Linked DNA regions of Homo sapiens: region 1 is linked to region 2. The links come from fine-mapping of genetic effects on gene expression. A gene starts in region 2. The other region holds a variant in brackets. All regions are shown on one strand. Distances are from middle to middle.

What was found.
Region 1: its variant is fine-mapped to the expression of ATP5MC2 in adrenal gland (GTEx, PIP above 0.99).

The regions. Positions count from the first base shown.
Region 1 is chr12:54,354,653-54,360,019 of GRCh38, forward strand. The region is part of intron 1 of GPR84-AS1 (GPR84, ZNF385A, ITGA5 and GTSF1 antisense RNA 1); the gene reads left to right. It also overlaps a transcript of GPR84 not described here. Among named protein-coding and RNA genes, the nearest start is that of GPR84-AS1, 3.6 kb to the left of the region's middle. RefSeq lists enhancers at 2,292-3,117, 3,118-3,942, 3,943-4,767 and silencers at 4,325-4,564, 4,575-4,644, 4,795-4,974. The variant G/C (reference allele first, on the strand shown) is at 2,270.
Region 2 is chr12:53,673,133-53,678,452 of GRCh38, forward strand. It overlaps ATP5MC2 (ATP synthase membrane subunit c locus 2), which reads right to left and starts at 2,951. Exons shown (of 5, transcript NM_005176.7): 1 at 2,921-2,951. RefSeq lists enhancers at 2,653-3,102, 3,213-3,442.

The sequences.
Region 1 (5,367 bases), 680 kb after region 2:
CAGGCTGGTCTCCAACTTCTGACCTCTGGTGATCCGCCCGCCTCGGCCTCCCAGAGTGCTGGGATTATAGGTGTGAGCCACCATGCCCGGCCTATGCCTTTTCTTTTTCAATCTCTTCCCTCTCATTTCACCCTACCTCCCTTAGTTGTGCTTCTCTTTCTGGTCACCTTCTGCCCACCCTGCCCTTCCGTGCCATATCATAACCCAGTATGATTCCCAGACCTCCCACTAAAGCAGGGACTCATTCAGAGCCTCTTTTCTCCTTTCCATCTATTCTTGGAATCTTAACTCCCAAAGGTATCCTCTGGGTCAGAACAGGGTTCTGAGGTGGGACTGAGGTAGGAGGGATGGCTGGGCTGAAGAGTGGCAGAAACAGGACAGATGGAGCAGCGTCCAAAGAATTTGGGGAGGGGCGAGAGGGAGACAAGAAGATGGAAAGAAACAAAATGAGAGAGAAAAAGTGATTGAGAGACCGAGGCAGAGGCTGAGAGACGGTGAGAATAACAAACTGGGAGAATGAGAGACACAAAGAAGGAAGGCAAGACTGGGAGCAGAGAAAAAGAATAGAGTTGGAAACAGGAAAGTCATAGCAAGAGAAGGCCACTAGGGAGGGGCCAGGCAAAGGGCAGCCTGGCTCTCCGGGGCTCCCTCATGCCATAAGTCCTGTGTGTGTGAGTGTGTGTGTGTGTGTGTGTGTGTGTGCGCATGGCACATTTGCACAGGGGTCTGCGGTATGGATAGGATGATTTCCACAATATTTTTCCACTTCTTTCAGCAGTCTCTTTCCTTGAGGCACCCCATACTAGCCCCCCATCTCCCAGTATTCCAGATGCTCAAGGGACCATTCCAAAGGTATTTCCACAACTCGGCAATCCTGGCTTTCTCACTTGGAATGCAGGCCTGCTGGAATGTCCAGGATCTGTAGAATGAAGAGCCCCATCCCCTCACTGCCCACCCCCCATGCCTGCCCACCAGCTGCTCCTGTCTATCTTCTCCCCATTCTCCTTGTATCTCCCCTTCCTCCACACTGACCCCTCCCCCAGCTCTGACCCCCAGCCTGCCTGGGGCCTGGGTCAGAGGGGAGACAAAGACAGGATTTATCACCAGTATTGAGAAGTAGCCAGAGACCAGGGCTGAGGGCAATGGCTGACCTCCTTCAGATAGGAGGGAGCACTAGGCCGGATGCCGGGAGGCTGGAAGGCTGGGTTCCAGTGGCTGCTGCTCACAACCCCATTTTCCCACTCCAGCTTTCCTCTCTCCCTTGTCTCTGAAGACTTGGAAAACAGAGAAGAGTATGACCCTGAGGTGATTTTAGGCCTCTGAAGGAAAACCTGGGAGAAAGGAAGAGATGAGATTGATATCTTAGGGTTATTCTTTTATGGATATGGAAGAGGATTTGGAAACTAGAGGCAATCAGGCACCAACTGTTTCCAGGGCTGGGAAAGAGTTCAGGCCTAATACTGCAACAGATGAGAGGGACTGTCCTCTAATATAGAGAGGGACTTCTCAAGAACAGGCCCTGGTTGCCAGTAGGAAAGGAAATAGGGGTGATTATGGGTCCTGAAAGGTGGGAGAAACAGTCTCACCTGAAGAAAGAAGAAAGAAATGAAATTTACCAAGGGCTAATTCTAGCTCTAGCCCCTCTGAAAAAGTCTTCTTCCCTAAGATCCCCAACTCCCTCCTGAGAGGTACAAGGAGCAGCTGGTCCTTTACAGTAAATACACTATTGGCCCGAAATTGTCTCTACTCAGCAGACAGGGTGTGTGCTTGAGGAGAGGGAACAGTATGATCCAGGAGTTTCCGAGAAACCAGACTGTATATCTTTCAGTGGACAGCTCCCGCAGCTTCTCTAGCTGCCCTTGGAAGCCCACCACCAGCCCCTCTAGAATCTCAGTGTGTCAGAAGCCTCCACAAACCCAGCTCAGAATCTTTCATGCCCCTTCCAGCCCCTGGCACCCAACTTCCTGCTTCTTGCCTTTACCCTATTGTCCTGGAAGACGGCTGCTAGAGTTACCTCCGAGTGAGAAGACAGTGGAAGGATGAGAAACTGAGGGATCTGGGAGTTACCAATCTACCAGTTTCTCACCACAATCCCACCAAGCATTCCCACCCGGGTCTGGTGAGGGAAAACTTGTGGTCTCTCTTAAACTCCTCTGCAAGCTGAAACCATTCTGTCAATTTCTGATGCAAAGCCCAAAATTGGAAATTTTAGTGGGAAGGGGTTGTGGATTGCAAGAGAATGGGAGAGGACAAAAGAATTGGGTGGAGG[G/C]GGGTGGTGTGGGCACACCAAGTAAGGAAGAAACAGGAAAGGGGAGAAGAGAGCATGTCTTTTTTCCTCAGTCCCCCTTCCCCCAGTTGAAGAGGCAGATTTACAGCCTTGGTTTGGAGAGGGGGTGAGCATAAGGAAGACAGATCTGCAGTTCTGCCCTCTGAGTGTCTGGGTACTTAGCTTTAACTCCCCCATTAGCATCAATCCCCATCTTGCTGCCCATCCGTCTTCTGACATCAGCTCCTTCCCCTCTCTGTAGCCCAAGCTTTCTGACCCTAAGTGGCTCTTAAAGGGCCAGTCTAGACCCTTCCCTCCCTCCTGCCACTCCAGGCAGCAGTCTAGTGTATGTACGCATGTGCATTGTGGCCAGCCTTGCTAAGGCCATAGCGGTTGGAGGGCATGGGGGATGGGGGCGATGTGTGACTCTTCCCCAGCTCTGTTTTCCTTAGGTCTCCCTTATATTATGGACCTCCATCTTTGTTCACTACCCACCCAAACCCAGAACAAGCCCTTTCACTGGGTTGGGGGGTCACAGACACATGGCTTCTAGAGCTGAGGGCTGCAGAAGGTATGTGGATCCATAGGCAGATCCACCACCCCTTCTCAATTTCCTGGAGGCCCAGAGCAAGGGATGTCAAGAAGTATTGGCTGTTTTTAATTCTCAGCAGCAGTGAGGGTGGGCAGGTTGGAGGCCAAGACTCCTAGGAGATGCCCTGAGCCCCACATTCCTAGCCTCCTTTCCCAGGGATCCAGGCTGTGGTCTGTGGAGGTGGGGGATTTCAAATCTTCCTTTCCTGTGAGGATGGTGACAGGCCAGAGAAATCTGCCTCTGAATTTTCTGGCTTATCTCCCCTATTCCTCAGCAACTGAGCTTAAGGGGACAGGGGGGAAATGGGCTTCTCCCCACCTTCTGCAAAAATGTTGTAACTGCACACTAGGGGCTATACGAATGCCAGGATGCTTGGAAAGTTCCTCCCCTATCTGCCTTCAATCCTTTCTGCTGCAAAGCTCTGCAGTCCTCTGAGGGGCTCTACAGGATAGTCAACCCCTCTTCCTGATACCTGAAACCCATTCCTCACCTCCGTCTGTGCTTCCTTCTCTGGCTCAGGAGGAGAGGGAATGTGTGGGTGGGGCCTTGGGAAAATGGCCATGTTAAAAATAGGAGCCCCCAGCTGCACCCCCCAGTGGACCCTTATTTATCACCTTCTAAATCTCACTCTCAAAGAAGCATAAATATTCCTAATTCCTGAAGGCCACCCTGGACTCATAAATTTAACTGGGGAGGTGGGCAAGGGGAGGAGTGAGGTGCATGGGATGGGGAGCTTACTGCAGCCTTGAGGAAGCAGAATATCTCCTGGGGGAGGCGCCTGACTCGTCTGTCCCCTTGCAGACGCCAATGGGTCTTCATAGGGGAGGAGGAGGAGCCTTTCTGTCAATATTTCCGTTGGGGAGTAGTCTTCTCTCACGGCACCTTTCCTCCCTCCCCTAAAAACAAACAAAAAACCAAAAACCTACCTTCCTCCTGGTCTTTCCCATTAGTTCTCTGTCGCTCTCCCTCTCTCTTTTCTTTGCTATTACCTTCCAGTTGTCCTTTCCTGCTTCTCCCTCTCTCTCACCTCCCTATTGCGCCTTTCTCTGTCTTTGCTTCTCTAATGCTTTTCCTTTTCAGAGCCATTGTGTGAAAAGGAAATTTCCGTCTCTTATTCAGTCTGGATAGTGAGATTTGAAAAGTCCCTCTCTCGATGCCCGATTTCCCTGCTTCAGCCCGTGTGGCCCCTCAAATGTGTCCTTTCTCTTCATCTCTCCTTCTTTCTTCTCGGATCTTGGACAAATTACCCAACCCCCCATTTAGCTCCTTAACCCTCTCTCTCTTCCCCTGCCTTCCTTCTCTCCTCAACCTTCCTTTCTTTCTGTCATCCTTTTGCCCTCTCAGTTTCCCCTTCGTTCCTCAGCTCGGAATCCTCTCTCCCTGTTCAGTCTCCTCTGCTCTCCCTGTCGGCCCCCATCCACACCCCTCAAACTCGACTCCTCGGCCCATGTGTACCCTCAGACCCCATCATCCCTTCAGTTCCCGTTACCACCACACCCCAGTTTCCCCTCCCAGTGGACGAAAGAGAAGGGAGGAGGGGGCCTGAGGAACAGGTAGAGGGAGCGCCATTCCTTGAGGGGAGGGAAAGAGGGGAAAAAAGCGGGGGAGAGGAGGAGGGACGCGGCGGGAAGGGGAGGGGAGGGGCATCCTCACTCCTCACTCCCTAGCAGCTGCACCCCCCTCCCCGCGGCTGCTGAGCCATAAATCAGGGCCAAGGTGGTTTGGCCAATGGTAGAGTGACTCGTAAATCGGCCTGTCAAGCTCAGCCAATGAGAGGCGGCGTTAAATCAAGTTCTGTCAGCGCTTGGCCAATGAAAGGCCCTGGGCTGACCATAAATCTGCCTGTAAGAGACAGCGAAAGAGAGAGAGCGTGCGAACGAGCAAGAACAGCCCGGGCGGGCGACTGGGGAGGGGGCGGGGGGAGCGCGGCAGCGGGGATTGGAGAGACGAGCTTAGGAGAAAAAAAAAGGCGATAACAGAGGTACAGGAGATGAAGACAGCCTACAGGAGAGACGGACAGATGGAAAGAGACAAAGAGAGGCAGTGAGAGATAGCGTCAGAAAGTCAGGGATAGAGCTCGGACTCGGGCGAGAGACTGACAGAGATAAAGAGACAAAGAGAGACAGACAGTGACTCACACTCGTGAGCATAAAGGGCCTCCAAACACACACACATCCCGAGACACGCATGAGCAACGCACCACGAGGGACCCAGTGCATGGCCTCACTCGCCAAGCACAACCGCAAGAGAGAGAAGGCCTCAAGAAAGCCTGGCTTTTCTTCAGTTTCATTCCCCTCATTCAGCCCTTATTGAAATTAGGGGCTGGGGTGGATGTGTGGGCCGTGGCGGGTGGCTGCTTTTTTGCTAAGATCTGTCCTCTATGGTCTTAGACCCCAGGATTTCCTTCTGTGTCTCCTGAGTTTTTTTTTTTTCCCCCCAGCGACTGATAATTGGGAAGTCCTTTCTGAGGTCTAACCTCAATCCCTATTGCTTCACCTTTCTACTTGAC
Region 2 (5,320 bases):
ACATGGTGAAACCCCACCTCTACTAAAAATACAAAAATTAGCCAGGTGTGGTAGCACGCGCCTGTAATCCCAGCTACTCAGGAGGCTGAGGCAGGAGAATTGCTTGAACCCAGGAGGCGGAGGTTGCAGTGAGACGAGACCACGCCACTGCACTCCAGCCTGGGTGACAGAGCGAGACCCCATCTCAAAACAAACAAACAAACAAACAAACAAACAAAAAGTTGCCCTTTAGAGTCTTTGTAGTTTTGGGAGATATTTGTTGAAGGCCAAGACACTGGAAGGTCTCCAACAATCTCTTTGCTGATCCCTGGAAGTATCTGATTCCTGAAAATACTTCAATTTCCTGTATTAATAAGATGAGGAAGATCAAGGAGGAACTCTGTTATTAGTCTATCCAAAAGGTATTAGTGGCTGGGCGCAGTGGCTCACGCCTGTAATCCTAGCACTTTAGGAGGCTGAGGCGGGTAGATCACGAGGTCAGGAGTTCGAGACCAGGCTGACCAACATGGAGAAACCCCGTCTCTACTGAAAATACAAAATTAGTCGGGCATGGTGGTGCATGCCTGTAATCCCAGCTACTCAGGAGGCTGAGGCAGGAGAATTGCTTGAATCCAGGAGGCAGAGGCTACGGTGAGCCAAGATTGCGCCATTGTACTCCAGCCTGGGCAACAAGAGGGAAACTGTCTCAAAAAAAAAAAAAAAAGTATTAAATTGTGTCTCCCCAAGATCTAAAGAAGATCTGACACCCTATAGGTATCTAAGTTGGTAGAAGTGAACTTACCTCAAACAGAAGGTGAGTTAAAAACCTAAAGGCAGGGTTTCTCCAAGTGAAGTGAGAAGCCCATCTGAACTAGAATTATCTGGGTGGTGTACGTATTAAAAAATGCATATTCTTGGGCGCAACTTGGACCTTCCTGGTCAAGATCTCTGGGGGAGCTAGGTTCAGTGGCTCATTCCTGTAATCCCAACACTGAGAAGCTGGGGCGGAAAGATAACTTGAAGCCAGGAGTTTGAGACCAGCCTGGGCAAACATCAAGACCTCATCTCTACAAAACATAAAATTAGCCAGGTGAGGTGGAAGTGCACCTGTAGTCCCAGCTACTCCAGAAGCTGAGGCAGGAGGACTGCTTGAACCCAGGAGCTGGAGGCTTCAGTGAGCTATGATCACGCCAGTTGTCCAGTATGGGCAACAACGTGAAACCCTGTCTATAAACAAACAAAAAAGATCTCTGGGAATAAGGCTCAAGTGCCCTGTATTTCAAACAAGTTTCCCAGATGATTATTAGGTATACTTAACGCAAGAGCGTGACCCTAAACCCAGTCTTGAAACTGTGGTAGTGGTAGAGGATAGACTTGAACTTGGATCTTTTAAGTTACATGCTTTCTAATATGTCACAGGCTGAAATACTCAGTGAATGCTTAGGGCTATTAAATACCACTTCATTAAATGAACTGAACTCAGATTGTCCCAGGTTAAAACACTTCTGAATCCAACATCTTAATTGCTCTTAATTTATTTTTTGCCCAGGCTATTGTGGAACTCCTGGCATCAAAAGATCTTCCCACCTTGGCCTCCCAGTGTTGGGATTACAGGTGTGAGCCACCACACCCAGCCTTAATTACTTTTAAGTTAATGGATGTCTTCAACTCTTGTCCTATCTAGAACTCTGATTTTTGCCTATATGTAACTCTAACCCAATTTTGCTGCCGTACTATTCAGGTTTTCTTGGGTCAAAATCCAATAGTTCTTTAAGGCTTTTAGAAAAAGAAGGGGTGGTTCTTTTCTAAGGGAATTATACCTTATTATCTTCTTTGTAAAATGCAGCTCTTAGGGGGATTAAGTATGTTCATTTACAAATTAACATACATAAAGAGTTTAATGTGGTGCTGGCATATAATAAACCCACAACAAGGGGTGGCAATTAAGTGATCCCACCATTGGCTATCTAACCATGGCAACTCTGCAATTGTTAGCCTACAACTTGGGCAAAGGCACTATCCAGAATCAGGACTCCAAAATCATCACGGGCTTTTTCCTCAGTGTAGATGAGTCACAGGGGTAGTAACTTAACTATTCCTTTCCTTAAACCTTCTTTTCCTTGTAACAGCAGAATCTGGGGAGGTTAATTAATCCTTCACAGGAAAGCTGGCAGGCAGGGTCTCATGCTGGCCCCACTAGCTTGGCCTTACCCCACCTTTCTGGGCCTGCTGCCTCAACAGAAACCCTCATCTCTAGCCCACCATTTGTGACTTTTACAACTTCACCAGCGTGCCGGGATGCGAGAAAGGTACTGGTAAATAACTAGTGATTCCAAAGCAACCAGCCTCTCTCTTCTGCCTTAGCTATCCCAAGCCACAACCTAACGGGAGGCGATGTTTTGGCTTTTTTTCCCACTTCTACCATGTTCAAGGTTTACTTTTTAAATTGAGGGGTGCTGACTAGAGGGATTGGTGACTTTAGACGATCCACTATCTCCATTGCTCGGAGCACCTGAGGTTCTGGGGCCTAAAGTCTGGAGATTTCAGAATAAAGAAGGCACAAGTCAGGATGAGAAGAGAAAGCAGAGATAGGAGGGGAGAGCCTGGGGGTTGTCACAATCTGAAAGGGCCAGAGGGCGAGAAAAGAGTGTTTGCAGGGACTGGGTGGAACAGGTGAAAAGCAGCACTCCAGGATCTAACTTTGGCCAGCTCCAAGGTATCCTCCCCCTGCGAGACATCCAAGATGGCGCCAGGCCCGCGCGGTTGGAGGTCACCGGCACGCGGAAGAGCCAACTCTAAGGCTAAGGGATAGCGGAAGCAAGAAAGGGCGAGAGGACCAGGGTGGGAGCACGCAAGGTAAGCGCCTCAAAGCATCCGCGCAAGGTGAGGTGTCCCGCGCGCGTGCGCAGCGCACAGAGGGCTCTAGGTCCCAAGGCCTTACCTGCTCCCACTGCAGAGAAGACAGAGAGGGGCGGAGCAGCGGGAAGAGCGAAAGGAAGGCTCAGCGCATGCGTGACCCGGGCCAACGAGTCGCTCAGCCACGGATAGAGTGATTGCAACATACAGGATCAGCTCAGGCATCACAGCGCCGCCTGCCAGGGCTGTGGCGGTATCCGGCCGGTTGCTCCACCTGGCGTTCGAGAGGAGAAACTACAGGGAGCGCCGACTGCAGAAATGAGGCCAACTCCGCGGAGTAAGCCGATCCGTAACGTGGACTGCGGTTTGGTCTGTACCGCGTTTGGGATCTCGGACTTGCGTCCCCTTTCCGAGCATGCGCAGTCGTCACACTGCCAAAACAAAACTCCTACTCAGAATTCAGTGTTAACATACGGTCGGGATTGGGGTTCAGTGCCTAAAATGCAGCAGGAGGAAGATCTTGGGAGTCCTGCTTTCTGTCGCGCCGGGACTCTGGCATCACTGGATGGCAAACCGGCTCCATGGGCGAATAGTCAGCAAAATGCCGCAGCTGCTTCTGGTGGCTTCGCCCTTTCCCCCACTCCCCGTTTCCTCCTTTCCATTCCGGTGATAAACCATGAGAGAAGCAGCATCAGCGAGCCAGAAGATAGGGTTAAATATGATCCGAATCCCTCTTTCCTGGCTCCTGGGACAGTCTAGGAATAACGGGCACCTGCGACCCGCTGTAAGGTTGCGAGGTCACTCCAGGCTTGCCCGAGCCTCTGCTCAGGTTTCAACTACGCGAGTTGGGATAAGCAGCGCCCTCCCCTCCCGCCCCCATGCTCTCCTGAACGTGGGTTTTCTCTCCCCTTTCGCTCGCCCTTCCCCTGATGGAAGGAGGTGGGGGAGGCTTCCTGGCCCTCATCTTTCCTAGGCCTCCTTGTCTCCCAGACAGGACCTGCCCTGCCCTTTGGAACAGGGCGACAAGGCCTATCCAGTTCCAAACCCCTGCCGTCCCTGCATCGTGCTTGAACGCAGCACGAGAAAGACGGGAAAAGCTCACCAAACCCCATAAAAAATAAAAAATAAAAAGAAAGCCGCGGCTGTAAATAAAGGCAAATCCGCCACTCTCTGAGGGGCCGTTTGTCCTCCCCTCCTTGGCCCCGTCCTTCCCGCCGCCCCCTCCCGGCTCCCGGGCCCCGCGGCGCCCCGGCCCCGAGCTCCTCCATTTAATCGGATTTGGGAGAAGGGGAGGATAAATCACGGCAGCAGCTTTACGGTCCCGGAGGAGAGGCGAGCCGCAGACAGGCACACCCCGGCCGGCGATAAAAACCGCCGCTGAAAGCCCACGGAGCAATTTCCCGGGACCCCGAGCGACGCCATTACAGGAATGTAATTTTGCCCGGATGAGGCCCCGAGTTTAATTATCCTCGCGGAGGAATTTCAATGCGGCCAATCCATCTTGCAGGCGGGCGGCAGAGGGATTTATATGGGCCCGTTATTTCACACCGATCCTCCATCTGCATTTTTATGGCCCTGAGCTCCTGAAAGGGAGGGGAAGGAGTGGGGAGAAATAGGAGAAGCGGGCGAGAAGAGGAGGGTGGTAGACTGCCTGTCTTTCCTAAATTCGCATTTCCAGCTCCATCAGGATTCTCACAGGTTCCTCTGAAATCCCCAAATCTCCAGTTTTAGTTGTTGATTGCGCCCCGAGCGGGCAGGTACGTGGGAAATGGAACTGGGATCTTTGGGAATCAATCAACAGGTATTTATCAAGTACCAAGTGGTGCCAGGCACTGTGGAGATGCTGTTAGGAGAAAGACAGGCTAGCAAAGACACAAGTTTATCCCCTGAGGTCTCCAGACATCTCCATTCCCACCAAAACGGAATTCTTTTAAGCTGTCAGCTTCACATCCTCAGTGGCAGAGAAAGTCCACAGTTCTTAGGAGCCACCACCCCCAAACGGCTGTTGCAGCTGTTGCGACAATTTAGACACTCAGATATGGCTAACAATCCCAGAGGAGGATCAGAGAAGGGGCCTGGGAGGAAGCTAAAGCTGGCTCTTTCCAAAAGTTGTTACAGCCTGCGATGTTTAACACTCCCTTGCCCTCATAGAATAATGGGTTCTGCGTTCAGACAAATCTGGGTTCCCAAATTGCTGTGTGATCTTGAGCTAGCTGTTTAACCCCCTCTAAATCTATTTCCTCCTATGTAAATTGAGAAGAATAATAGTACTTATCACACAGCCAATATTGGGATAATACATATGAAGCTTTTAGCAAGGTACTTGGTACCCAGTAAGAGTTCAGTAATTGCTAGCATTAAAATCATCATCGTCACCACCACCACCACCACCACCACCATCACCACCATCATCACCATCATCATCACTGCTTCTATAGTTAAGGGCATTGCAACTCAATTCTGCACTGCTACCTATATGGACTGT